7 separate regions of the Homo sapiens genome follow, and all the other regions are linked to region 3. Evidence: fine-mapped expression QTL. A gene starts in region 3. Each other region holds a variant in brackets. All regions are shown on one strand. Distances are between the middles of the regions. Region 1 overlaps CCDC146 (coiled-coil domain containing 146). Region 2 holds the start of CCDC146-AS1 (CCDC146 antisense RNA 1). Region 3 holds the start of CCDC146 (coiled-coil domain containing 146). Region 4 has its middle 78 kb from the start of SPDYE17. Region 5 has its middle 23 kb from the start of CCDC146. Region 6 has its middle 18 kb from the start of SPDYE18. Region 7 has its middle 88 kb from the start of SPDYE17.

Evidence for each region.
Region 1: its variant is fine-mapped to the expression of CCDC146 in whole blood (TOPMed, PIP above 0.99).
Region 2: its variant is fine-mapped to the expression of CCDC146 in whole blood (TOPMed, PIP above 0.99).
Region 4: its variant is fine-mapped to the expression of CCDC146 in tibial nerve (GTEx, PIP above 0.99).
Region 5: its variant is fine-mapped to the expression of CCDC146 in sun-exposed skin (GTEx, PIP above 0.99).
Region 6: its variant is fine-mapped to the expression of CCDC146 in tibial nerve (GTEx, PIP 0.99).
Region 7: its variant is fine-mapped to the expression of CCDC146 in skeletal muscle (GTEx, PIP 0.96). The same link has a PIP of 0.9 or more in spleen.

What each region holds. Positions count from the first base shown.
Region 1 is chr7:77,279,495-77,283,563 of GRCh38, forward strand. It overlaps CCDC146 (coiled-coil domain containing 146), which reads left to right. Exons shown (of 19, transcript NM_020879.3): 14 at 935-1,159; 15 at 3,063-3,291. Among named protein-coding and RNA genes, the nearest start is that of CCDC146-AS1, 33 kb to the left of the region's middle. The variant T/C (reference allele first, on the strand shown) is at 1,565.
Region 2 is chr7:77,247,612-77,251,680 of GRCh38, forward strand. The region is part of intron 4 of CCDC146 (coiled-coil domain containing 146); the gene reads left to right. It overlaps CCDC146-AS1 (CCDC146 antisense RNA 1), which reads right to left and starts at 1,097. Exons shown (of 2, transcript XR_007060387.1): 1 at 1-1,097. The variant G/T (reference allele first, on the strand shown) is at 1,570.
Region 3 is chr7:77,120,227-77,124,295 of GRCh38, forward strand. It overlaps CCDC146 (coiled-coil domain containing 146), which reads left to right and starts at 2,389. Exons shown (of 19, transcript NM_020879.3): 1 at 2,389-2,506. It also overlaps the pseudogene FAM185BP. RefSeq lists enhancers at 1,178-1,679, 1,680-2,179 and a silencer at 2,075-2,174.
Region 4 is chr7:76,952,754-76,956,822 of GRCh38, forward strand. No RefSeq gene overlaps it. Among named protein-coding and RNA genes, the nearest start is that of SPDYE17, 78 kb to the right of the region's middle. RefSeq lists an enhancer at 1,512-2,378 and a silencer at 2,346-2,546. The variant C/A (reference allele first, on the strand shown) is at 1,888.
Region 5 is chr7:77,097,417-77,101,485 of GRCh38, forward strand. It overlaps the pseudogene FAM185BP. Among named protein-coding and RNA genes, the nearest start is that of CCDC146, 23 kb to the right of the region's middle. The variant G/A (reference allele first, on the strand shown) is at 2,526.
Region 6 is chr7:77,078,905-77,082,973 of GRCh38, forward strand. It overlaps the pseudogene FAM185BP. Among named protein-coding and RNA genes, the nearest start is that of SPDYE18, 18 kb to the left of the region's middle. The variant T/C (reference allele first, on the strand shown) is at 2,258.
Region 7 is chr7:76,942,499-76,946,567 of GRCh38, forward strand. No RefSeq gene overlaps it. Among named protein-coding and RNA genes, the nearest start is that of SPDYE17, 88 kb to the right of the region's middle. The variant T/G (reference allele first, on the strand shown) is at 2,443.

The DNA of each region.
Region 1 (4,069 bases), 160 kb after region 3:
GATTGGGAAGTTAGAAAACAATCAAATCGTTTGTTAACCAACATCCCCTGATTGTAGATGTAAAGCATCTCATGTGTTGTGGGAGGCAATACGTTATAGCAGATTGGTGAAAGAGGTGGTGTCCAGACTCAAATACCACCCCTCCCACTTATTACCTCTGTAACCTTGGACAAGCTGCTTTGTCTCTCTGAGCTCACTTTCCTTATCCATACCATATTTCATGCGACATTTTACTGTGAAATGAGCTAATTCATATAAAAACACTCAGAAAAGCGTCTGGCAAATGGTTGTTTTCTTCATTTATTATTTACCATGTGCCAAGATCTTCTGGACTCTTTCACCTATGTTAGTAAACAGTACACGATCAGGGTATAATCTAATTTTCTGATGGCCATTATTGCCCAGTTTCCTTCAACAAAGCAATTATAAAGTGGCCTCATTTCAGGGGTCGGGGGTGGATGAAAAGAAAAATATGATTTCCTAATCAGGTTCTCATCCAACTTGAAAATAAAATACATTTATAGAGGCCATGCATTCATTCAGCATTTATTGTGGCCACAGGCTGAGTCAGGCACCACCTTATGTCCAGTGGACATTATTGGATATAACCATCTCTGTCCTCAAGACAGCAGTCTCCTGAGAATGACAATAAATGAATGACTGCAGTCTCTCGCTTTGATAAAGGGGGTCAGCAGAACATTGGGGGGAAAAGGAAAGATGTTCTAATCTGGAGCAGAGAAAATCTGAGACCTGGAAGGATTATGAAAATTCCTGAAGAGTATCATAAGATGAATATCATTATTACTAGTATCATTTCAAGGGCTACACTAAAGCAAGGTCTGCTTTGATAGTGCTTGTGTTTCAGAAGCCTTCATTCCTTTTAAATAAACTAAAGAAAATTATAATCTTACCCATTGTCTTATTACTTTAAAAGAAAGCTACAAAATTCCATGCTGAAACACGCCAACAATGTTACCATCAGAGAGAGCATGCAAAACGATGTGCGCAAAATTGTATCAAAACTTCAGGAAATGAAAGAAAAGAAGGAAGCCCAGTTAAATAACATTGACAGACTTGCCAACACGATCACAATGATCGAAGAGGAGATGGTGCAGCTTCGCAAAAGATACGAAAAAGCTGTTCAGCATCGAAATGAAAGGTAAAAACCAGGTGTGAGAACAGAGCACCAGGGATCCAACTGAGGAATGTCACCTCTTTTTCTATCTAGACTTGACAGTGAATAGTGAGGGAAATGTGATATTCAGGTTGCATTAGCCTTTGGAGAGAAGGGACTGTGTGTTGCTTCCCTGGAAAATAAGAAACACTGTCCTCACGCTGGGCACAGTGGCATGATCCCAGCACTTTGGGAGGCCAAGGTGGGTGGATCACTTGAGCTCAGGAGTTCGAGACCAGCCTGGGCAATAGGGTGAAACCCCATCCCTACTAAAAATACAAGAAATTAGCCAGGTGTGGTGGTGGGGGCCTGTAATCCCAGCTACTTGGGAAGCTGCAGCACGAGAATCGCTTGAACCCGGGAGGCAGAGGTTGCAGTGAGCTGAGATCG[T/C]GCCACTGCACTATAGCCTGGGCAACAGAGCAAGACTCCGTCTCCAAAAACAAACAAAAAAAAAAAAAGAGAGAAAGAAAGAAATACCGTCCTATGTCATAAACAGGCAAAGAGGAGGGGTTTGGGAAAGTTGCTTGCTTTTGAAGATCAATGTCCTTTCCTAAGTGGTCATTCGGGTTGCCTCTTATAACATCAGATTCTTTCAGCATAATTGACATAAATAAGTGTGGAACTTGTACCCAATGTTGTGGTAAGTTTGGTCTTATTATATTTAGCCATTCTCCTAGTTCATTTGCTCAGCAAGTTAGTAAGACCTTTAGGAGTAGCATTATTTCTTCCAGGTTGCAGTTATATCATTAATCAATGTTTACTTCAGCAGTTTCTCCCAAGTTACTTGTGCTCTGAGAAATTGGAATGTGAAATTTGCAGAGCCCTGTGATAATGACATCTGGTATCAGATTTTTTTTAAGCAAACTTTGATTGTGTGCTATTCTGTATAAGGCATTAGAGTGCTAGACCTTGAGAGTACAAAAAAGTGGTAAAACATTGTTCCTGGCTTCTGTTGTCAAGAGAACTTGATCTTGAGCCTTTGAAAGGAAAACAGACAAAATATAGAGCTGGGATTAGCTGAGTACAACCACATGCATGCATGTTTTGAGGAAGGGGAGTCATAGATAGAAGCAATTAAAGGAGGAACTCTGAAATAATGTATATGCATAATGTGTGGGAAGACCTTTAGGGTCCTTTGAAGAACAGCACATTTTCAAAGGGCTGGTAGGTTTTTCTCCAGGGGAGAAAAAAAATGCTATTCAGCTCCTGGCACAAACCAAAGCGTTTGGACAAACAGTGTGCACCCAGGTGCCACTCAGATCAGTGGTGCATGATCGGTCATGCAGACCAGAGCTGCTGGGGTTAGAACATTCTTACTTTGTTTCCTCCCCATATTCTCCATTCAAGGAGGGGTCTTTCTCCTGGCATGATTACAAAGGATAGATTTTTGCCTGTTTATGGGGAAATCACAACCAGAAATATTCAACTTGAGAAGAAACTAATGGGCCTAGCAACTTAATATAGAGCAGACTCACACCAGAACTACATTCCCTGGCCCCCTGCCTGTGTGCTTCTGGCCAGGCCTTGGTTGGCAAGTCTGACCCGAGAAAAGGATCTGCAGAAAATCAGACTATGGGATCACTTTGTTTGTGCATTGGGAATGACATTCTTTCCCACCCCAGGAAAACCTTTGGGACTTTCAGAGACATTGTGGCTAGCCAACCACATGGTCAGCCTCAAAGTTGAGAGGCTCAGTAACCCTCCTATCCCTAGAGAATTCCAAAGTGTGGATGTAATTTAACTAGAAAGCCATTGGTGACTATCTGTGATCCTCTGGAAGTATGCTATGTTGTGTATATCTTGCATCCAAAGCCAGAGGGAACCACAATGACTAGTAAAACGGTGGTCTCAATGCCCACTTAGCCTCTGCCTCTGAATTTGACCATAGTGGCGTTCAGCTGATAGAGCGGGAAGAAGAAATATGCATTTTTTATGAAAAAATAAATATCCAAGAGAAGATGAAACTAAATGGAGAAATTGAAATACATCTACTGGAAGAAAAGATCCAATTCCTGAAAATGAAGATTGCTGAGAAGCAAAGACAAATTTGTGTGACCCAGAAATTACTGCCAGCCAAGAGGTCCCTGGATGCCGACCTAGCTGTGCTCCAAATTCAGGTGGGTGAGTGATCACGGGACACTTCCTCAGACCATTTATTTTTTTCTGCCTTTATTAGTTTGTGGGTGAGTTCTTGCATGTAAACCAAGCCATACTATTTCTGGGACCTATAAGAATCCATCCATCTTGTTTAAAAATACATTTGAATGCTACTCTAGGATGGAATCTGTGCTTCAGGCATCCAGGCTACACATTGTCTTTTTTTCTTATGAAGCATTTTCTGCTTTTCTTGGAATTTGAAGACTCCCAGGACTTATCTCTAGCTCAGCTTCCTCATAGCTCAAAATTTAGTGATCTAGACTCTCACTACCCTCAGCATAATTATGTCGTTGCTGCTTGCTGGACAGATCTTGAGGATGAGCCAGCACTCTTACTTTTGATACTCTGGCCCCCAGAGCAAGAGATTGTCTGGAGATTGTTGCTTATTAGTAGTTGTCAGTTACATATAACTTGATTCTTTATTAACCACTGTAGTTCTATGATAGCTTAGTAACCTGGCCTTTGACATGGCCTTTTTTAAAGTGGAATAGATCCAAAAAACTAAAACATGAAATAACAAAATAAATAAAATGTGAATATAAAGTTACTTTCTTCACATGTGTTACTTGGGGTTTATTCTTCATAGAATTTTTTTAAAAATTAAAATAAAAACTGTGTAGCCTAAACTTGTTCCCATTGACCAATGTAGCAGGAACAAATTCTAACCTATAATATTTTTTTTTAAATGTCAGGTTTGCGTTTGGATTTTTTTTCCTGATAAAAAGTTAAGACATTTGG
Region 2 (4,069 bases), 130 kb after region 3:
ACATAATCCCATTAAAAAGTAGGCAAAGGACATAAATAGACATTTTTCAAAAGCAGACAAATGGCTAAGAATCAAATGAAAAAAGTTCATCACTAATCAGAGAAATGCAAATTAAAACCACAATGATATATCATTTTATACCAGTCAGAATAGCTATTATTAAAAAGATAAAAAATAAGATGTTGGCGGAGTGCTGAGTAAAGGGAACACTTATACATTGTTGCTAGGAATGTGATTGGTACAAGCTCTATGGAAAACAGCATGGATATTTCTCAAAGAACTAAAAATAGAACTACTAATCCATCTGGCAATCCTACTATTGGCTATATACCCAAGAAAAAGAAATCATATCCAAAAGATACCTGCGCTCATATGTTTATTGCAACACTATTCACAATAGCAAAGATAAGGCATCAACCTAAGTGTCTGTCAAGAGATTGGATAAAGAAAATGTGACATATATATACAATGGAATACTATTCAGTCATAAAATGAAATCATGTATTTTGCAGTAATATGGATGGAACTGAAGGCCGTTATCTTAAGTGAAAAAAACTCACAAACAGAAAGCCAAATACCACATGTTCTCATAAGTGGGAGCTAAGTAATGTGTACACGTGGACGTAGAGTGTGGACTAGTAGATACTGGAGACTTAGAAGGGTGGGAGGACAGAAGGAGGGTGAAGGATGAGAAATGACTTAATGGGTATACATGTATATAATTTGAGTGATGGTTGTACCAAAAGCCCTGACGTCACCACACTGCAATATATCCATGTAACAAAACTGCACTTGTATCCCTTAAATGTATACAAATGAGAAAACCTGGTGTGCATGTGCTTTTAGCTCATGTTCCTAGATCTATGGACTAGTGGGATCTGGTTATTTGTTATAACCAGTGGACATAATTGTCTGTGTATTCATTTATTTCATATGATTTTCCAAGTGTGATCAATACAAACTTTAAAATCTTTCCATATCGGGAAATCATATGACTTCTTTGGCACTTAATAGTTAGTCATTAAATAAAGAATAGCAAGAAAAATGAAAAATATTTCTCTAGATTTCTTCAGGAAATCTGGTCAATAAAACAGTTCAAAATACGGTTATTGGAAGAAACACGCAATTATATCGAACTCATTTTGTTTAGAACATTCAAGCTATTTGAAGCAATTTCCAAAATGTCATTCTAGCATCGTGTCCTCTCATCTTATTAGTTAAAATAAAAATATAAACTTTTTTTGTATTTTCTCATGAATAAGTGAACAAAACCATATGTTCCCATTCACTGTCTGTACTTTCTAATGTTTTTATTTCTTTTGTTTGTTAATCTCAATTTACAATGATGACTGGCTTTTAGAAAAACTGACATTTCTTTCTATAGATGCCAAGTATATCCAATTGATTGATGGGATTATTGAGTTTGACTATGTCCTTAACTGATCTTCTGACTTCTGGATCTGTGCACTTTTGATAGAGGGATGTTGAAGTCTCCAGCTGTGAGAGTGGATTCATCTACTTCTCCTTGCACTTCTATCAGTTTTGCCTCATGTATTTTGATGTTCTGTT[G/T]TTAGGTGCAAATATATTAAGAATCCACTGGCCGGGCGCTGTGGCTGTCACCTGTAATCCCAGCACTTTGAAAGGCTGAGGCAGTCAGATCACGAAGTCGAGATCAAGACCATCCTGGCCAACATGGTGAAACCCTGTCTCTACTAAAAATACAAAAATTAGCTGGGCGTGGTGGTGCACACCTGTAGTCCCAGCTACTCGGGAGGCTGAGGCAGGAGATTCTCTTGAACCCAGGAGGCGGAGGTTGCAGTGAGCCGAGATCGCACCACTGCACTCCAGCCTGGCGACAGATTGAGACTCTGTCTCAAAAAAAAAAAAAAAAAAAAAGAATTCATTAGGTCTTCTCAGAGGATTGACTCTTTTATCATTATATAATGCCCCTCTTTGTCTCTGATAACTTTTTCTTGCTCTGAAGTTCGTTCTGTCTGAAATTAATTTAGTGACTCATCTTTTTTTAATGTTAGCATGGCATATCTTTCTCTATCCATTTACTTTTAATATATATGTGTCTTTATATTTAAACTGGATTATTGGCAAACACAGCATATAATTTGAGTCTTGTTTTTGTTTGTTTGTTTTTCTTTTTGGATCCATTGTGACAATCTTTTAACTGACATTTAAAATGATTACTGTTGTAGTTGGGTTAATATCTTCTGCCATATTTTCACTGTTCTCTATTTGTTGTGCTTGTTCTTCATTCCTGTTTTTGTTCTCTCTTTTTATGCCTTTTGTGGTTTTAACTAAGCATTTAATATAATTCCATTTTCTCTCCTTTCTTAGTATATCAGTTGTACATCTTTTTTTACTTTAAGTGGTTGCCATGGAGTTTGCAATATACATTTACAACTAATTTAAGACCATTTTCAAATAACACTATACCACTTCAAGTACTTTTTAAGTAACAAAATAGTCCTATTCCTCCTTCCTATCCCTTGTATCATTGCTGTCATTCATTTCACTTACACATGGGCATACATAAATATATATGCATATGTAATTGAATACATTGCTGCTGTTATAAATTTGAACAGTGTTATCGAGTATCTCAAGAATAAGACAAAAGCTTTTCTTTTACCTTCACTGATTCCATAGCTAATGCTCTTCATTTGTGTAGAACTGAGTTTCTGACCTATATAATTTTCCTTCCCTCTAAAGAGCTTCCTTTAACATTTCTTGCAAAGCAGGTCTATTGACAAACAAATGTCCTCAATTTTTATCTGAGAAAGGCTTTATTTCTCCTTTACTTTGGAGAATAATTTCACAAGGTACAGAGCTTTAGTTTGGTGGTTTTTTCTCTCAACACTTTAAATATTTCACTCTACTCTCTTCTTGCATGTATGGCTTCTGAGGAGAAATCGGATGTAATTCTTTGTTCCTCCATAGGTAAGTGTGTTTTTCCTGTAACTTCTCTCAGGAATTTTCATTATCTTTGACTTTCTGTAATTTACATATGATATGTCTAAGTGTTCTTTGAGCTTCCTCGATCTGTAGTTTATTTTCCTGCATTAATTTGAAGGAAATTCTCAGACATTATTGCTTCAGGAATTTCTCGTGTTCCTTTCTTTCTTCTCCTGGTATTCCTCTTATGAGTATTTATGCCTTTTGTAGTTGTCCCAGAGTTCTTGGATATTCTGGTATTTTCCTAGTCTTTTTTTTTTTTTTTTCCAGTTTGGGTAGTGTCTAGTAAGATATCCTCAAGCTCAGAGATTCCTTCCTCAGCCAAGTTCGTTCTGTTAGTAAGCCTATTAGAGGCATTCTTCATTTCTGATACAGTGATTTTGATCTCTGGTATTTGTGTGTGTGTGTGTGTGTGTGTGTGTGTGTGTGTGTGTGTGTGTGTGTGTGTTTGGTTGTTTGTTTTTGAGACATAGTCTCACTCTGTCCAGGCTGGAGTACAGTGGCACAATCTCGGCTCACTGCAACCTCTGCCTCCCAGGTTCAAGATAATCTCCTGCCTCAGCTTCCTGAGTAGCTGGGATTACAAGTGGCCGCCAATACGCCCAGCTAATTTTTGTATTTTTTGTAGAGATGGGATTTCACCATATTGGCCAGGCTGGTCTTGAACTCCTGACCTCAAGTTATCTGCCCGCCTCAGCCTCCCAAAGTGCTGGGATTACAGGCATGAACCACCATGCCTGGCTGAGTATTTCTTTTTTATTATTTCTTAGAATTTCCTTCTCTCTACTTAAACTGCCCATTTCGGGATTGAGTTTATCTGTTAGCGTTCTTAGCCTATTAGTCATAGTTGTTTTAAATTCCTGATAATTCACACATCCCTGCCATATCTGGTTCTGATGGTTGCTCTGTCTCTTCAGATTGTGTTTTTTGCCTTTCAGTGTGCCTTGCAGTTTTTTTCTTGATAGCCAGACACGATGTACTGGGTAAAAGGAATTGCTTTAAATAGGACTTCAGGAACATGGTGGTAAGGTGTGGAGGGAGGGGAGCATTCTACAGTGTTGTGATTAGGTCTCAGTAGCAGAGGTCATATGTAATGGGAGCC
Region 3 (4,069 bases):
AAAACAAAAACATTAGCCAGGCATGGTAGCATGCACCTGTAGTCCCAGCTACTCAGGAGGCGGAGGCGAGAAGATTGCTTAAAACCGTGAAGTCAAGACTGCAGTGGGCCATGATTGTGCACCTGTACTCCAGCCTGCATGGCAGAGTGAGTGAGATGCAGTCTCAAAAAAAACCAAAACAAACAAACAAAAAACCCCACAAGATTGTGGACAAATGGCAGTGGTACATGAAGCAAGTTTGGAAAATAAGGAATTACAAATGCCATCCTTGGCTGTCTATTTAAGATGTAACTGCAGGCATCGCTGTATACAAATTTTAAAAATTAAAAACGCTGATATTTAATTTGGAATTAACATAAATATTGATGATTTCTCTTAAAGTAGGCAAGACCCGCCCCCCCGACTTGATTCCTGAAACCACAAATAGTACCAAATCCTATATATTCTATGTTTTTTCCTGTATACATATCAATGATCAAGTTTAATTTATAAACTAGGCATAGTAAGAGATGAACAACAATAATAATAAATACAGCAATTATAACAATATACTGTAATAAAAGTTATATTACTGTGATCTGTCAAAATATCTTAATATTTTCCTACAACAGTTGAGGCAGGTAACAAACTCAGACAGCCAAACGGTGGATAAGGGAGGACTACGGCATCTACTATTTGGGCAACTGTAAGCATTATAAAAGATGATCTTAAAAATGCTAAATGCTATTATTATTACCATCATCATCATCATCAATATCTTCCTTCAGTCCCAGGAAGAATGACAGTCTGGGGAGCCCTTCCTAGAAAAGTGTGTGTACACAGTGGCTTGCCATTTAGGAAAACCTAAGAAAGGTATCTTGCAGGCATTATTATTGAAGCTTCCTAGGCAGGCTTACCATGTGTTTTTCTTCAAAGCTTGCTACTCATGGAAAACTTAGGCCAAAAAGAATGGAAACATAACAGTAAGAAGCTGGGCGCCCGTCTAAAACCAAATACTCAAACCAGGTGGTACCTGGAACATCCTATTGACAGGGCTGTTTTGGGACACACCCCCAGGCTGTGAGCAAGGGGAAATGTAGATGGACTGCCATACCATTGAATGAATTGTCAAGAAACTTCAACCTTGAAAAATAAGCCAGTTTGCTAATGACAACGGGATAAAGAAGAACACAAGCGGCTCCAGAAATAGAATTTGACCTGGATTATACCAAATCGTGTTTCCATTCGATGTATAAAATTTCTATAATTGGGAACCTAATTTTTTAAATACTACTCGGATACTCAAGAATAGAACAGAGGAAAAGTTGCATTTCCGAAGGGGCCAACTGTAAATTAGGTTTAGAAAGCCAGGACCAATTAAAAGTGCACGTCGACCAAATTTATTAAGTTCACTGTGCGTTCCCTGGGACCCAAACCCGTTTTCACTTCACTTCACTTGCCAAACTTCAGGGGCGCGTTCACCTCCACGGACGCCTGGGGGTGGATAGTATCAGACACAATGGCCATCTCCTCCAGATCCTCGTCGTACTTCACCTGCAGGCCGTCCAGGCCCCGCACGCCGCCCTCCACGCCGCACACCGCGACCAGCACGCGGTCGCCATCCGGGTAGGTGAGGGGGTCCAGGGGCCTCACGGCCAGGTGGCACGGGAGCCGCGCCCGCAGCCGACCGAACGGGCTCACCTGCAGTGTCCACTCCTTCAGAGTTCGGCGCGCCGGGCCAGGCGGAGGGACCTCAGTCTCCGATCCGGGCCAGCGCTCGCCCCTACCTGAGCTGTACGGCCTGGCTTGGCAAGCCCAGCAAGACCAGCGCCCAGCGCCAGCCCACAGTCGGACCTGACGGAGACAGAGACGGAAGCAGCCAAGCTCCCAACCTGAACAGGGGGCAAGCATGGCGCGCCTCTCTCGCCAGTCCTCAGAACACTTCAGCCACAGGGAGGGTCACTTGCCACGGCCAATCGACTTGGCCACTGTGCCGCCTCAAGTCAAATAGGAGACGTAAGTCAGGGTTTGCTGAAACAAGAGCGAGCCGGTTGGCTTGACTAGGCGATGTAAACATCAGCTGCGTAATCCCCAGGGGCAAGTTGGGATTTGAAAGCTCTGAACTCTGACCTGGACCCCTTGCCTAAGTCCACCCCCTTTCGCTAAGGCCGACGGGATACGTAGTTCTAAAGCGGTGGAAAGTCGCAGAGCTCCGCCTCTTAGAAACCACATATCCCAGGAGGCAATGCGCAGGGGAGCACGGGTAAGAGGGCAGGTGTTAGAATCGCTGGAAAGGCGGGCGCCCTTTGTTTCAAGACCATTGGCTATTGGAGGGGCGGTACATGGGAGGCCACTGGCCAATGGGAAGCACGGAAGGGGGCAACGAGGGTAAAGCTGCATGGTCACCTTGGATACCAAGGACGCGACTTCTTGTTTGGAGAGGGTGGAGCTTTGGAGTGAGACCCAGGAGGCCAAATCCCAAAGAGAAAAATAGGAGCCTAAATAAGGATCAGGACCAAGGGAAGGGGTAAGAAACTGCGCTTTTTAAGTTGACAACTAGGTGCAAACTAGGAGTAACCTATGTGGATGTCAAGATCCAAGCTTCACTAACCTAGTGCGGGCATCTCCAGGGCATGGAGAATGCCTTGGTAAGAGAGTAAAGAGCAAGATTGGTGCTTTTTGAGGGAATTGCCTCTTTGGAAGTGTATTCCCTCCTATATTCCAAATATAGGAATAGAGTACTTGCTCCGTCCTGACCCTAAGTGACCTTACTTTGGGTTTTAATTTGCTCACTTTAAAAATGTAGATGATAATACCTTCCTTGCCTTGCCTCAAAGGGTTTTTGTGAGGATCAAGTAAGAAAATGGATGGGACCGTGGTGCACAGTCTACCAAATTACCGTGTAAAGTACTGTATTTTTATTTCAACGTACTTAACATTGATTCTGAGTTACCAAGAAAATTATGAGAGATCAGAACTTGTTTTGAGAATAGCATTGATCTCTTTGACTACAAATGATCATCAGTTTTAGAGTGAAAAAAAAAAAGACACAAAAAAGAGAGTCACCATGGTGCGGTGGAAAGAGCAGGGACAAGGGTCAGATTATTTTCCTGGCTCTGCCACTGCTTCATCTGTGTCACCTAGACCTGTTTCTTTAGTTTTAAAATGAAGAAAGATGGTTCTAAATGACCCTATAAGGTGTGTGTGTGTGTGTGTGTGTGTGTGTGTGTGTGTGTGTGTGTGTGTGTGTGTTTACCTTTTATAATTCTATGGGCAGTAAAATAATGGGAACAGAAAGATTTATTTTCTTCTTTTTTTCTTCTTTCCTGCCTGGTTTCTCTCTCCCCCTCTGTGCCCCTACTTCCTCCTAAAATGTATTCCCTAAATTATTTAGCCAAGACACCTGCAAACACTAACATTTCATAAAATGCAAGTGCCTTAAAAAATTGAAGCCCTTACCCAAGTACAATGACCAGAATTCTTGGGGCTATCGTGATAGATAGACTGGGCTAAAGTTCTCATGGGTACAAGTCTCAGGTTCTCTGCTAGCCACTACCTTTTTAAAATTTTTAAAAATTCAGTGTTCTCTTAAGTTATCATTGCCTCTTTTCTGTCCTTCTAGTCCTTGCTCCCTCCTTATTCTTCTTTCGGTGAAGACTCACTCATTATAGGTGCTAGCTCAGGTTCAGCAAGGGCCCACTGCAATAGTTCTTTTCTTGTCTTTGTGTTTCATTGGTTATAATTATTCAGAATAATCTTCAAACTATTTTTTATGAAAATTGACAGGTGTAACTTTGAAAAGAAATTTGAAAAAGGCACTGGTTTAAGGAAGTTGAGAATGTACTCAAATTTTCTGTAGAAACACTAGACATTTTTAGATTAAATATTAATTCTTAATAGTTAATTCTGTGTCTATGGTAATTTTTCCGTTTCTGAGACAAACTAAGTTAATGGAATTGGCAACTGAACTATAATTTTCTATGTTGCATAATCATTATTTTACTTTTTCAAACAAAAACCAAATAGAATTGACTGAAAATTTACTTTGCTGATCATACAAGGTTGAAAATGGAGAAAATTATTAATATTA
Region 4 (4,069 bases), 170 kb before region 3:
ATGACCATTCCATAGACAGAGCAGCCCCGAGGGTGGCTGGTTACCCATTTTTATGATTATTTCTTGATGATATGCTAAACAAGGGGTGGATTATTCATGCCTCCCCTTTTTAGACCACATAGGGTAACTTCCTGACGTTGCCATGGCATTTGTAAACTGTCATGAAGCTGGTGGGAGTGTAGCAGTGAGGACGACCAGAGGTCACTCTCGTCGCCATCTTGGTCTTGGTGGGTTTTAACCGGCTTCTTCACTGCAACCTGTTTTATTTATTTATTTATTTATTTATTTATTTATTTATTTATATATTTTTTGAAACGGAGTCTCGCTCTGTCACGCAGGCTGGAGTGCAGTACCGCGATCTCGGCTCACTGCAAGCTCCGCCTCCCGGGTTCACGCCATTGTCCTGCCTCAGCCTCCCGAGTAGCTGGGACTGCAGGTGCCCGCCACCATATCCAACTAATTTTTTGTATTTTTAGTAGAGACGGGATTTCACCGTGTTAGCCAGGATGGTCTCGATCTCCTGACCTTGTGATCCGCTCGCCTCAGCCTCCCAAAGTGCTGGGATTACAGGCGTGAGCCACCGTGCCCGGCCATCACTGCAACCTGTTTTATCAGCAAGGTCTTTATGACCTGTATCTTGTGCCAACCTCCCATCTCATCCTGTGACTTAGAATGCCTTTACCATCTGGGAATGCAGCCCAATAGGTCTCAGCCTCATTTTATCCAGCCCCTATTCAAAATGGAGTTGCTCTGGTTCACCCGCCTCTGACAATAGTAGAAGTTAAAAAAAAAAAATAACTTCTTTAACTCCACTCCAGGTGGCATTTCTTAGTGCCTCTGAAGGTTCTGATCTAGAACCAGCCCCCAGCTCACCCAGAGCAAGGAAAGATCATGAAAACCCAAGCAGAAGCAAGACACTGGGTTCCAGCATCAATGCTAAGGGCTAGAACATTTTCTGATGTTTTGCTTGGAAAGGCAGAATTTGGTTGTCTAGTGCGTCCACTAATTGGCCTCCATCTGACACCCTGGAGGGATGGGCTGATTAGAAGCCACAGCTGCTTTGCTCATTATTTCTGATGAATGGACATCACCTGGCGTCTCCGGTGATGGCGCCAGCTCAGGACCCAGGTGTGACCTGCACAACAAAGAAAAGCAAGATAGCTTTGCAGCCAACATGGTGAAACCCCATCTCTATTAAAAATACAAAAAAAAAAAAATTAGCCGGACGTGGTGGCGGGCGCCTGTAATCCCAGCTACTCAGTAGGCTGAGGCAGGAGAATCGCTTAAATCTAGGAGGCAGAGGTTGCAGTGAGCCAAGATCATGCCACTGCACTCCAGCCTTGGCGACACAGAGAGACTCTGTCTCAAAAAAAAAAAAAAAAAAAAAAAGATGGCTTTACAGCCCTGAGGAGTAAACCAGTCTTCCCCAAATAATTATCTTATGTAAGTCCCAGCCCCTTGGAACATGTTTTGAAAGGGCTCACCCATCTGGGCAGGTGACTCACGCCTGTAATCCCTGCACTTTGGGAGGCTGAGGCAGGCGGATCACCTGAGGTCAGAAGTTCAAGACCAGCCTGGCCAACATGGCGAAACCCATCTCTACTAAAAATACAAAAATTAGCCAGGCATGGTGGGACACGCCTGTAGTCTCAGCTACTTGGGAGGCTGAGGCAGGAGAATCACTTGAATATGGGAGGTGGAAGTTGCAGTGAGCCGGGATCATACCATTGCACTCTAGCTTGGGCAAGAAGAGTGAAACCCCATCTCAAAAACAAAAGAAAAGGCTCACCCTTTTCACTGGTTCCCTTGTGGCAAATCTAAAATAAGGTACGTGTGCTCGCCGTTCATTCATCTGAAAAGTTCTAACAGTTTGCAAATACCCTCTAC[C/A]CATACCCCACCCCCACGTGTTGTCCTTTTTTTTTTTTTTTTTTATTTGAGACAGAGTCTCACTCTGTTGCCCAGGCTGGAGTGCAGTGGCGCAATCTCGGCTCACTGCAAGCTCTGCCTCCCGGGTTCACGCCATTCTCCTGCCTCAGCCTCCCAAGTAGCTGGGACTACAGGCGCCCGCCACCATGCCCGGCTAATTTTATTTTATTTTATTTTTGTATTTTTAGTAGAGACGGGGTTTCTCCATGTTAGCCAGGATGGTCTTGATCTCCTGACCTTGTGATCCGCCCGCCTCGGCCTCCCAAAGTGCTAGGATTACAGGCATGAGACACCGCACCCGGCCCTTTTTTTTTTAAGAGACAAGATGTCACCCTGTCACCCAGGCTGGAATGCAGTGGTGTCGTCATAGCTCACTGCAGCCTGGACCCCCTGGGCTCAAGTGATCCTCCTGCCTCAGTCTCCCAAGTAGCTGGGACCACAGGGGTGTCCCACCACACCCAGCTAATTTTTTTATTTTTTGTAGAGATGGGGTCTTGTCTTGTCACCCAGGCTGGTCTTAAACTTCTGAGCTCAAGCGATCCTCCCACTTGGACCTAGCCAGGTGCTGGGATTATGGGTATTAGAGTTTAAATTTCTTTGCTCAACACCACTCCCCATTTTGTGGCCAACAGTCACATTCTTTCTTGGGCCACGTCATTCATTTTCAGTTGCTTCAGAGCACTGGTGGCCCCTTGGGTGTGTTGAACAAACCCCAGCCTTTGAGGAGTTCAAAAAAAAAAAAAAAAAGACACCATCTCTAGGCGGAAAATTTCAGACAAAGAACCCCTGCCAGGAATATTTCCTGCCGCTGCTCCTGCCACTGCCCCTTAGGCTGTGGACCTTTATGCAAGAACGCAAGTGGCAAACTGCCCTACTGTGTATGTTGTGGGGAGTGGGGGTACTGCCAGAGAGGAGAGAGCCCTATTTTATTTTATTTTATTTTATTTTAAAGACAGAGTCTCACTCTGTTGCCCAGGCTGGAGTGCAATGGCACGATCTCGGCTCACTGCAACCTCTGCCCCCTGGGTTCAAGAGATTCTCCTCCCTCAGCCTCCCCAGTAGCTGGGATTACAGGCGCATGCCACCACGCCTGGCTAATTTTTGTATTTTTAGTGGAGACGGGGTTTCCCCATGTTGGCCAAACTCCTGACCTTATGTGATCCTCCCACCTTGGCCTCCCAAAGTGCTGGGATTAGAGGCATGAGCCACTGCGCCCAGCTGACAGCCCTCTCTAAATCTTTAAAAATTCAGTCAGGCGTGGTGGCTCATGCCTGTAATCTCAGCACTTTAGGAGGCTGAGGCAAGAGGAATGTGTGAGCCCAGGAGTTTGAGACCAACTTGGGCAATATGGTGAGACCCTATCTTGACAGAAAATACAAAAATCAGCCTGGCATGGTGGTGCACGCTTGTAGTCCCAGCTACTCAGGAGGCTGAGGCAGGAAGATCACTTGAACCCAGGAGGTCGAGGCTGCAGTGAGCTATGATCACGCCACTGTACTCCAGCCTGGGAGACACTGTCTCAAAAAATAAATAAATAAAATCTTTAACAATTCTTCAGCTTATCCCCCTACCTTCTGGGGCTTCTTGGGTCTCTTCCCAGAAACTTTCTTCGTCTGTAAGCCCGTTTATTGTATGCAATTGTTTAAAAAACACAAATGGGTGCATATTCTCATATTCTCTACCCTCTATTTTGAACGTTCCTTTTTTTTCTTTTTTTCAGACCGAGTCTCAGTCTGTCACCCAGGCTAGTGCAATGGTGCAATTTTGGCTCACTACACCCTCTGCCTCCCAGATTCAAGCGATTCTCCTGCCTCAGCCTCCCGAGTAGGTGGATTACAGGTGTGCACCGCTGCACCCAGCTAATTTTTGTATTTTTAGTAGAGACGAGGTTTCACCATGTTGGCCAGACTGGTCTTGAACTCCTGATCTCAGGTGATCCACCTGCCTCCGCCTCCCAAAGTGCTGGGATTATAGGCATGAGCCGCCTTGCCTGGCTCAAAGTTCCTTTTTGGTTTAACAATAGATCTAGGCCACTGTGAGTCTTCCTCATTCCTTCTAGGGCTACCTAGTGTTCCGGGGTTATTTAACCAGCCCCCTCCTACCAGGCAGTTCTTTTGTCTCTGGCCCTTTGCTACGTATATTA
Region 5 (4,069 bases), 23 kb before region 3:
GGAAGACTTCAACTACCTGATTTACAGACTTACCAAAGTTACAGTAATCATGATATTGTGGCACTGGCATAAGGCTCACCAAATAAATCAATGAATTAGGAACAAGAGATCAGACATTGAGCCACACTTATATAGTCATTTGATTTTAGACAAGGATGCTAAAGTAATCCATCAGAGAAAGGAAGTTTTTTCAACAAATGATGATATAAAAAAATTTTAAAACTGACAATAATAAATGTTGATGAGGATGTGGAGCAACTGAAATTCTCATACATTGTTGATGAGAGTATAAAGTGGAACTCTGGGAAAAGGTCTGGTAGTTTATCATAAAGTTAAACATAGAACCTACCTAGTCAACTCAGCAATGCCATACCTAAGTATTTACCCAAGAGGAAAAATATATATACATCCATAAAATGACTTACATTAATATATTCATAGCAGCTTTATTTACAGTTGCCAAAAAATTAGAAATAGCCCAGGTGTCCATCAACAGTAGAATGAACAAATTAAGCCTTCTAATAGCCTGCTTTCACTTCTGAACCCTTCTGGTACATTATGAAATAACAGCTAGATTGTTCTTTTAAAATATAAATTATATATCACTTCCCTAACATCCTGTTGTAGTTGGAATAAAGTCTGAACTCTTACCCTGTCTACAAGGTCCTAAGATCTAGCCTTACTTACCTCATATCCTACCACTTTCCTCATAAGCCAGCCTTCTTTCCCTTGAAAATAGTAAACTTCCATTTTCAAGGCCTGCACTTGCTGTTCCTCTATCTAGGGAGCCTGTATCCAGAATTTTATATAACTCTTTCTCATTTTTCTGGCTTTGGTTTAAATGTACCCTCTCCAGACCACCCCCAATTGCCTAACTGAAGTAGCTTTCTTTTTCCCCAATCTCTATTCAGTTACCCTTTCTTATTTCTTCATTGTACTTACCACAAACTAAAATTACCTTTTGTTATTTATATGCTTGTTGTCTTTCTTCCCAGGGCTCAGAGAAGGTGAAGTCTCTGAGCACAGAAACTATGTCCTGTTGACCAATATGTTCCCTAGTACCTAAAAGAATTCTTAATACATGGCAGGTACTCAATAAATACATGTTGACTAACTAGTTATTGGTATTCACAAGGTTGTCTTCAAATGTTAACACATTTGGAGCCCAATAAACAGTGACATTATTTATATCTTTCTTTCAAGGACTTAATTTAGATATTTGAAGAATTCAAGAAATTTGTAAGATCTTTTTTTCTTTCTTTTTTTTTTCTTCAGAGAAGTTTAGCAAGAAATATAAGACATTTCTTAATACCAGCTCAGGCAATTTTCTTCGAGTGGACATAATTAGTACATTGGTTCTGCCTATATTTGACTTGTGATCCTGTCAAGTTCATCAGTTAAACTGTAGAATTCATTTATTCTAATAAAGTCATCACAAATATACCCATTTTTAAAAGTGGACAAAATACACGAACTAGTAGCTTAGTACGTACCTACTGTGATGTTACCCATCTCGCTTTGTAATGTTATATTACCTGCCAAAAAGAAAAAGATACTTTTATGTACTAGAGACAATCTAGAAAGGAACTGTGATACATAGCAATGCTAAAACATGGATGAATATCTACAATGTTATTTTTGTTGGCAATTTTTCCCAATATCACAAGTCCAGTCAAAGATTGAGCTGTAGTTCTGAAATAACTGGCTTAGGTATCTCTGCAAACCTTCTTTCTCTACTACCAAACCTTAAGCTTTTATAGCATAACTACAAATCACCATAACTGCTGGCACAGAGGAAAAACAATACTTCTAAAACCTGTAAGTGAAAAAAATTACTGAAATGTAGTCACTGTACATTTTCAACCTAAATATCAATGTATTTATCAGACCACACAAAGCGAAGTTTTCAACCAAGTAACACTAAAATATGGTATGGAAAAAAAGAATTACTTTTATTTTTCAGGCCACTTGCCATGTCTATTAAATTAAAAGTAGTTTCTGGGCCAAGAATTAAAGTGGTTTGAGATAGGAATAATGAATACATGGAGGTATGACTAGCAAAACAGAACAAAGAAGCTTCAAAGATTTCCGTCTTAGTGAAAATATGTTTTCCATGATAAGTATGGAATATTGCAACCATTCTTCCCAGCCCCTTTCCCCTAATACCAAAAGTAGTAGGATTATTCTTCATATGTGTGTTTGTACGTGTAAGTATTCCTAGAATCAGGAACTCATATTTATTCTACTGAAAATATAAGCAATAATGTTATCTCTTCTAAAATAATTCCAAAACTACACTAAAAAGTAAAGGAATAACTTTGGCCTCAGAATTAATCTTCAGTAAACTCATTTTATCTCATTTCATATACCTTATGAATACTGACTTGTATCAGTATCTGGGAAAAACCAAAAAAAGGCACTGGATTCATTTACTCAATAGCCAGATGCGCCTAATTGCAAAAATCCATCTGAAGGTCTAATATACCATCATATTTCCTGTGAGTATATGAACAAGGAGTATATTT[G/A]TGTATGAATAAAAACTTGGTTTGTGTACTGAAGCTTATAAGATTACTAATTTTTTTTTTCATATTTTAGATTCAGGGGATACATGTGCAGGTTTGTTACCTGGGTATATTGTGTGATGTTGAAGTCTGGGGTACAAATGATCCCATCACCCAGGTACTAAGCATAGTACCCAATAGTTTTTCAACCCTTGCCCCGTCCCTCCATCCCCCATCTAGTAGACTCCAGTTTCTATTGTTGCCATCTTTATGTCCATAATTATCCAATGTTTACCCCCCACTTATAGGTAAGAACATGTGGTATTTGATTTTCTATTCCTGTGTTAATTCGCTTAGGATAATGGCTTCCAACCGCATCCATGCTGCTGCAAAGGATATAATTTCATTCTTCTTTATGGCCGCATAGTATTCCATGGTGTATATGTACCACATTCTCTTTATCCAGTCCACCACTGATGGGCACATAGGTTGATTCCATGTCTTTGCTATTGTGAATAGAGCTTCAGTGAATATGTTGAGTGCATGTGTCTTTTTGGAAGAATGATTTATTTTCTTTTGTGTATATATCCAGTAATGGAATTGCTGGGTTGAATGGTGGTTCTGTTTTAAGTTCTTTGAGAAATCTTCAAACTGCTTTCCACAGTGGCTGAACTAATTTACATTCCCACCAACAGTGTATGAGTGTTCCCCTTTCTCCACAGCCTCGCCAGCGTCTGCTGTTTTTTTACTTATTTTTAATAATAGCCATTCTGACTGGTGTGAGATGATATCTCATTGTGGTTTTGATTTGCATTTCTCTGATGACTAGTGATTTGGAGCAGTTTTTCATGTTTGTTGGTTTCTTGTACGTCTTCTCTTGAGAAATGAGCAAAATGTCCTGTCTTTTGCTCATTTTTAATAGGGTTATTAGTTTTTTGCTTATTGATTTGTTTAACTTCCTTGAAGATTCAAAGGAACAAAGGATATTAAACCTTTGTCAGATACAGAGTTTGCAAATATTTTCTCCCATTCTGTAGGTTGTCTATTTACTCTGTTCATAATTTCTTTTGCAGTGCAGAAGCTCTTTCATTTAATTAGATCCCAATGAGGCAAGTCTAGGAGGACAGGAATCACATCTTTCTTATTTAGCTTCATACCTGGGAACTTTGCACAGTGCATAGTACATAGTAAACACAATTATTTTGTGAACAAATAAAAAGTTTGGAAAAGTAGGTAAAGAGCAACCTGTGGTAGAACCACAGAGTGCTAAGTCTACTGACTATCCTACACCAAAAAAGTTAGTGAAGAATTTCAAGATGGATAAAAATACAAGAAAACCATGCTTTAAGGAGATTCACCTAGTGTGAGACAGTGGGTGTTTCCATTCTCAGCATTCTCTTTACTGCTTGTTGTGGTTTGAACGTTCCCACAAAAGTTCATGTGTTGGAAACTTAGTCCCCAGTGCAGCAATACTGTGAGGTGGGACCTTTGGGAGGTAATTGGGTCATGAGGGCTCTACCCTCATGAATGGATTAACCCATTCATGAATCAATGGATTAATGGGTCAT
Region 6 (4,069 bases), 41 kb before region 3:
ACCTAAGCCACTCACAACATGTTAAATTTGCCACACATGGGTAGAGGACAAAACTTAGAATCAAGACTCTCATGAAGATTATAGAATGCAGCCCCAATACACACTTGTGCATAGCTTTTTAGTAGGTAAATGTTTCAGCCTGAGAGTCTCAGGTTTCCTTTTGACCTCAGAATAGCACATAATACGTGTAAATCATGGTAGGAATTATACACCTGAGTTTATTTATCAGTGACAGCAATAGCAAAGGAAACCATGGAGCAGGAAATCAAATAAAATTATAGAGCTGACACATCAAAACCCTGTGGGAAGCTGGAACCTAAGGGAATAATTTTACTGGCATGGCTTCTTGCAGAGATTATCCAGAAGTCATGCTGCAGATAAAATCCAGGCTCTTAGCAATAAGAGTATTTCTATTTTTATCCCTCATGGGCTCTATGAGGAAGGCCAAGATGAGCTGAGCTCAGCTGCCTATAATAATAGCTCACATATAAAGCTGCTTATTATTTCCAAAATTTGGTTTCAGATTGGAAATCTCCATAGAAAAAAGCAATCTGCCCTGATTTTCTAGGCCTCTTAAATTATTTCATCCAGTTGATACATAAGGCCTGTGGCTGACTGGGTACCAAACAGTTTTAAAACCAAAATGAAATATGGAAGTTTCTCTTAAACCCAATCACCTGTTCATACTCACAGCTCCCTCCAGAGACTGCTGCTCTCTTCACCTGAGGTCCATTATTACTTTAATGGATTTAATTTGCTATCAGAGACAACATACAGATCCATCTGGGGACCAACCTCATAGGGTAGTCTGTGCTACTCTGCAAAACGATGCTTGATCAGTACCTAGATTCTTCCACCGTGAACAGGAAATAAACTCATCATTCTGCGATTTGGCCCTTCCTGCTTCAGGAGGTGGGGCCGGAGTATAAGCCATAATAACAAGTAACACACAAAAAGAACTCAGTAGGCTAAGGCGCTTCATAATAACCAATGAGGTAAGCATGCATCTTCCTCATAGCATTCATTCATCTTTATATTCAAGCAAAAGTTACTGAAGGCCTATTTATTTGCTGAGTTTAAGATAGCTCACTATGGAGTCCAGGCCCCTGTACTCCTTCTGCTGAATTACTGCAGTAACCTCCTAAAAAGCAAAAGTTGTTTTTTTCTCCTTCATCCACCATTGTTCTTTCTCATCTATCCCCACTCAACATTCAGAGTGATCTTTCTAACACAAAAATCTGATTATGTGAACCCCAAGTTAAAACCTTCCAAGGGCTTCCCAATGCTCTTAATATAAAATCCAAACTGTCCCATATGATCTGACCTCTCCCAAACTCTCCAGCCTACTTTTATGCCACTTTCCCCTTTACTCTCTATAGTTTGGCCATATTTGACTCCTCTCACTTCCTCACCCCTGTGTTCTCACAGTACAATGTACATACGTTTATAACATTGATCCCACTGTACTGTATTCTCTGGTTTGCCTTTCCTCACTAGAATGTAAGCTCCTCAGAAGGCAGTGAGACCATGCTTTATATTACCCTTGCACTCCTAGTTTCCGGCAGTGTTGACTCAAACATTTGTTGAGTAACTGAGCAAATAAAGAAAAATAGAAAAGACAGGAGAAGGAAGAGGTAGGCTAGGGGAAGATAATTTTGTTTTTAAACATTAAGTTTTAGGTGGCACTGGTTTAGTGGAATAGAAATGCACAAGAACAATAGAGATCAGGTCTGCATGTATTGACTTGGAAGTTATGTACATAGAAATAATGACTGAAGTTGTGAGAATAGTTTTAAAACAATCTAAATTTTAGAAAGGCATATGATTCCATGAATAAATGAATAAAAATATGACAAAATAGCTTTAGCTTATAATTCAAACATGCTTACATATGCCAATAATTTTGGTTATGCTATGATTCAGAGCACAGTTAAACAAACTTGTATTATTGTTTTAGATTATTGGGACCAAAAATAGGTAACTCTCTTGGCTCCTTATCAAATTCAAGCATTAGATCACAAGTTGATTCTCACTATATTTGATACCCAGTCACACACTGCATAATTATGTTTCAGTCAACGATGAACTACAGAAATGATGGTTGTCCCATAAGATTATAATAGAGGTAAAAAACTCCTATCACCTAGTGACTTCGTAGCCATCCTAATGGTTGTTTAAATGCAATGCACTACCTGCATTTGTGGTGATGCTGGTGTAAACAAACCCACTCCACTGTCATAAAAAAGTATAGCACATA[T/C]GTTATGTGTAGTTCATAATACTTGATAATGAGAATAAATGACCGTGTTACTGATTTATGTATTTACTATACTTTTTATCGTTAGAGTGTATATCTTCTGCTTATTAAAAAAAAAAAAAAAAGTTACGATACAACAGCCTCAGGCAAGTCCTTCAGGAAGTATTCCAGAAGAAGGCATTATCATCACAGGAGATGACAGCTCCACGTGTGTTATTGCCCCTGAAGGCCTTTCAGTGGGACAAGATGTGGAGGTGAAAGTGATACTGACATTCTTTACCCAGTAAAAGCCTAGACTAATGTGTGTGTTTGTGTCTTCGTTTTTAACAAAGTTTAAAAAGTAAAATTTAAAAAAATTAACAATTTTAAAAACAGAAAAAAGCTTACAGAATAAAGATAGACAAGTATATCTCTACAGCTGTAAAGTGTGTTTGTGTTTCAAGCTAAGTATTATTACAAAAGAGTCAAAAAGTTTTTTATTTTATTTTATTTTTTTCTGAGAGGGAGTCTCGCTCTTGCTCAGACTGGAGGGCAGTGGCGCGATATTGGCTCATTGCACCCTCTGCCTCCTGGTTTCAAGGGATTCTTTTTCCTCAGCCTCCTGAGTAGCTGAGATTACAGGCGCCCGCCACCACGCCCGGCTAATTTTTGTATTTTAGTAGAAATGGGGGTTTCACCATGTTGGTCACGCTGGTCTGGAACTCCTGACCTCAAACGATCTGCCCACCTCGGCCTCCCAAAGTGCTGGGATTACAGGCGTAAGCCACCGTGCCCAGCCTCAAAAAATTTTTTAAAATGTAAGTTTATAAAGTAAAAATGTTCTTTGGGAAGTTGAGGTGGGAGGATCACTTAAGGCCAGGAGCTGAAGACAAGCCTGGGAAACATAGCAAGGCCTTGTCTCTGCTAAAAACTTTTTAAAAATTAGCTGGGCATGGTAGTGCACACCTGCAACCTAGCTACTAGGGAGGCTGAGGCAGAAGGATCACTTGAGCCCAGAGTTTGAGTTTATAGTGAGCTATAATTGCACTCCAGTCTATGCAACAGAGAAAGCAGCTATCTCTAGAATAAATAAAGTAAAAAAGTTACAGTAAACTAAGGCTAATTTATTATTGAAGAAACTTAAAAATAAATTTAGTGTAGCCTAACTGTACAGTGTTTATAAAGTCTATAGTAGTAATGTCCTAGGCCTTCACATGCACTCACCACTCATCATACTGACTCACTCAGAGCAACTTCCAGTCCTACAAGCTCCACTTATGGTAAGTGCCCTATACAGGCGTACCATGTTTTATCTTTTATACCAGATTTTTACTGTACCTTTTCTATATATAGATATACAAATACCATTGTGTTACAATTCCCTACAGTTTTCAGTACAGTAGCCTGCTGTACAGGGTGTAGCCTAGGAATAATAGGCTACTACACAGCCTCAGTGTATAGTAGGCTGTACCATCTAGGTTTGTATAAGTTCACTCTATAATGTTCACATGACAACAAAATTGCCTAATAACACATTTCTCAGAATGTATCTCTGTCATTAAGTGATGCATGACTGTACTTAGATTTTCATCAAATTTTTGCCACTTAACTATGGGTTTGCCCATTAAGTGGCATGCAGTTATATCTGGGAGTGTATAGGTATTATTTTTATTCCTGTTATGTTTTTTGTTAATATTCTATGAATTTTAACAGACAACTTTCTTAATTTTCACGACATATAAAATGAATACCTAAAACTGAAATTTGATCTTATGAAGACCACCCTCCCCTACTCCCCAATTCTTCCTTTTTCTAGTTGGCATCTCATGGATTTAG
Region 7 (4,069 bases), 180 kb before region 3:
TGTTGGCTTCATCAATGGCTGTACACTCTCCTCCCTTTGAAATTCTTACCCTATTATTTGCCTAGTCCTACAGATTCTCTGCGAATTCTCTATTACTACACAAATTTAGCTTTCATTATTACTCATCAAAATATTACTTTTGTCTCTTTCATTGTCACCAATAGAATGCCTTCTCTACCTTCTCCAACCTATTTCATTATAAAGCTAGTTGTGCTTGCTTTCTAAAAAGTGGATATGCTTTTGCTTTCCTCCCAGTTTCCCCTCTGTTTAGATTTTTAATGGCTCCCGATTTTCTGTATTATCTAAATGCTCAGCATGTCCTACTGGACTTCACTACTACCTTTAAATAACAGCTCCCCGACCAGCTCTTGCCTAGACTCTCCTTGTGCCTTATATGAACAACAAATGTCTCTGTCTTAAGTTGGTTTCCCCAGAAGCAGATTCTGAGACAAAGATTTGAGTACCGGTGCTATATTATTTGGGAAATGATCCCGGGAAACAACAAATGTCTGGAGAGAGATAAAGAGAAGGAAAGAGAACCAATAATTTGTGCCTTGTCAAGCAGGTGTTAGAGGTAGGGCAACTGAGTTCAATCTCATTGGGGAGTCCTAAAAGATAATGAGGAACACTCTTCCTTATTATCCAACCCCAACCCCTCCTGCCTCCAAGGGCAAGGAAGGTAGAGTGTGTATTCTCCAATCCATTTGTCACTGGCCAAGAACTGCTACTGCATACATTCATCACTTACCATTTCCAGCCTGCCCAATAAAAAGAAAGTCTCAGGTAGAGAGTTACAGGTGATTCTAGCAGAATGCCAGAATGACATGGGTAGGCATTGATGCAGGACTGATTTTATGCACATACCACACAGCCTCACGTATACACTATTGTTGTACATAAACTGTTACTTGTGTAGGAACTCTCATTGTTGTTGTTCCAGTGAAATTCTACTCAATCTTTAAGCCCAATGTCAAAAGTCACTCTGATTCCATTTCTGAGGAAGAATTAATGATTCCTCCTGTACTTCCATAATACTTCCTTGGAGATTAAGATTTCAACTTGTACTCATGGTTCCACCTTTGTATCACTATGCAATGCAGTAATCTCCATTTGACAAATCAGGAAACAGTCAGAAAGATCATGCCAGAAATTACATGATTCCTAAAAGTTGGAGTGTGGAACTCCAACCTAGCCCTCTTAAAAATCTACTTTGCCCAATAAATCAGATATCCTCAACCTGAACTGACTATGTATCTGCTATATTAAATAATTAAAGACCAACTGGCCTAAATAAATGCCCTGCTATTCAGAGAACCAGCACTGCAATGTGGAACAGATCTACCTGCCTTATAAGCAAGAAGTCCAGTTTCTCCTTCTTCAGGCTCTTCACTCCTCTGGACTGTTCATAATCATGAGGGTTTCACAAACCAAAACAAGAACCTTACAAACTTCCACACTCAAGCCTGCAAAGACCCAGTATCTCAAGTAAGCACTTCCATTGGGTCTTGTTGCAGCATGGTGGACAATGGAATGTGGCCCCACAGTCTATTAGTCAATATTGGTCTCCTGCTATGGTCATCTCACTGCTCTAGATGCTTTCCAGCTGTTCTTCAAGGAAGCACACTGAAGCAGTAAGTGCTCAGTCCTTTCAGTCTCCTACACAGTCAACTCAGGGTGTTCTTAGTTCCAGGCAGCAGGACAGAATGGTTCAAGCACCTGTCACTTCGTATGAGTAGTGCTCTTTTTCCTTCCCTTCCTTTGCTTCTTATCCCCATCTCTTGAGCCATCATGTCAATATCACACTGGTTGTTCTTTTTAACTCTATTTACAGGTATGAATCTCAGCCCACAAATTCAGGTGAGCAAGAAATCTACAGTCTTTACATTATAAAACTTTATTTTTTGTTGTAAGAGCCGCCTTTCTCGCATGACTAGTGGGAAACTTAAACTCAGTCCCATTCATGATTTTCTGTCCCTTAGTGGGTTCTCAGAGAGTGCCTTGGGATTAAGGAGTGGGATCTCTCTTATCCTTAAGCATCTGTCCACACACAGACAGCTACTGAGACACCCTCTGTCTTTCTCCACACGGCCCCTCTGGCATGCTGGCTCACTCCTGCCAGGCACACTTGGGACATAAAACCTTTCTCTGAGTTTGTCCATGGAAACCATCTTCTCAAATACCCCATACAGTCATTTCCTCTCAGGGGTTTTCCAACACTCAACCTTACTTCTGTTGACTGAGGCCTTGGTCTCTACCACACAGGGACTTTTACAAACTATCTTGCTTTCTCCTTGCAAGTGGAGACACATCTCTCTAGTCTTACAGGCTTTAGTCCAGCTCTCCCTACTGCTTCTGGCCAAGATACTCTGTCCAGCCTGCCAATTCTCTCTTTTCTGTGGGGCTTTTAAAGGACAGATAAACTAACTAATAAAAAGCCAGAAA[T/G]ATTGGAGTGCCATTTGTTCTTTCTGCTTTTTAACACCCCTTCCCTGAGTTGAATGAGAGGAAGAGATCCCTGAGTTGAATGAGAGGAAGAGAATCAGAGATTCAGGGAGAAAACAATTCTAGATTAATATTACAAATGATTTCTCCAGATATACCTAGAAACACAAAGAAATAATTATAGCCATTTCATCCCATTGGGGTTGTTAACTCTGTCCTTACTCTACTTAAGCTAATATCCTAAATCCTTGTGCACTAATATCCTCTTTATATCCCACTTCCTCTCCAAAATATATCCTCTTTCCCTGCTCCTGTTCTTGTAGGAGTAATTCCAGAAGGCCCTGACCATCGCTCCCCTTTTAGGGAGGAATTGCTCCCTAAAAGTCCAAGGTGGTTTTCTGGCTACAAATGTATTCTCTAATGGGATAGTCTACATGAAACAACAGAAAACAAAATTAAATGTGTCAATTGATGTAACTTGATAAACCTTAATATCAACATATTTGCTACCAAAGGATGTGGAAAAAGGAGCAGGTGGAGATTAACCAGTGATTAGGAAACAAAATTCTGAGTCAGAACCTGGTCTTCTGTTTCAAACTTTATCCCTTCATCATAAAATACATGCATGTTTCTAGATAACGCAACCCTTTACTCTTTTCCAAAAGGGGAAAAATATCTCTGTGAGTGTCTATTCCTAAATTCTAACAAGTGTCATCTTAGAAAACAAACAAAAAAAAATTAGAAAATTGCTGAACAATCCTGCTAGCTGCTATTCAGTTATGAAGATCATAGTCATTCTGTTCGTGAGATACTCTAGAGATGTTATTCAGAGGCTGCTTAGGAGAAAAAAAAGAAAAATGCAAACTGTTAGATCTCAGTTAAATAACTGAGTTTATTGCAATTTAAGCTAATAGTTATTCAGTATTCAGTCAACTATTTGGTGCAAACAAATAAATATTCTTCCACTTGTTAGTCCCTAGGGGCTTTCTTAATCCTATCTGAATTTACTTTCTGTGAATTTCTGAGTAATCAGAAGTTATAGGTTGGATACATCTTGTGCTAGGGACACCCATGGTGTAACTGCTTCATTTTTTCTTTTCATTTCAAAGGAAATGGTCCATCCAAAGTGAAAATTGTTGTGTTTTATTTTTTTTTTTGGTGGTAGAGTATATTTTCCTCTTTGTTGGTGTTGTTATTGTTGCTGTTGTTTTAATCAGATAGTTATTTCAAACAGAAGCAATCAAGTTCCTTTTTTCACTGCCATCTCCCTCTACCCTTCCTACTCAATCCATGCTGTTAAGAAAATATCCTTGTTAGTAATGTGACATAAAGCAGCCTTAAAAATCCATAATTCAGCTGGGTCTAGTGGCTTGCACCTGTAATCACAGCATTTTGGGAGGCTGAGGTGGGAGGATCGATTGAGCTCAGGAATTCAAGGCTGCTGTGAGCCATGATCACACCACTGCACTTCAGCCTGGGTGACAGAGCCAAGACCCTGCCATAAAAAAAAAAAAAAAGATTCAGGCCCGGTTTGGTGGCTCACACCTGTAATCCCAGCACTTTGGGAGGCCTAGGCAGGCGGATCACCTGAGGTCAGAGTTCGAGACCAGCCTGGCCAACATGGTGAAAC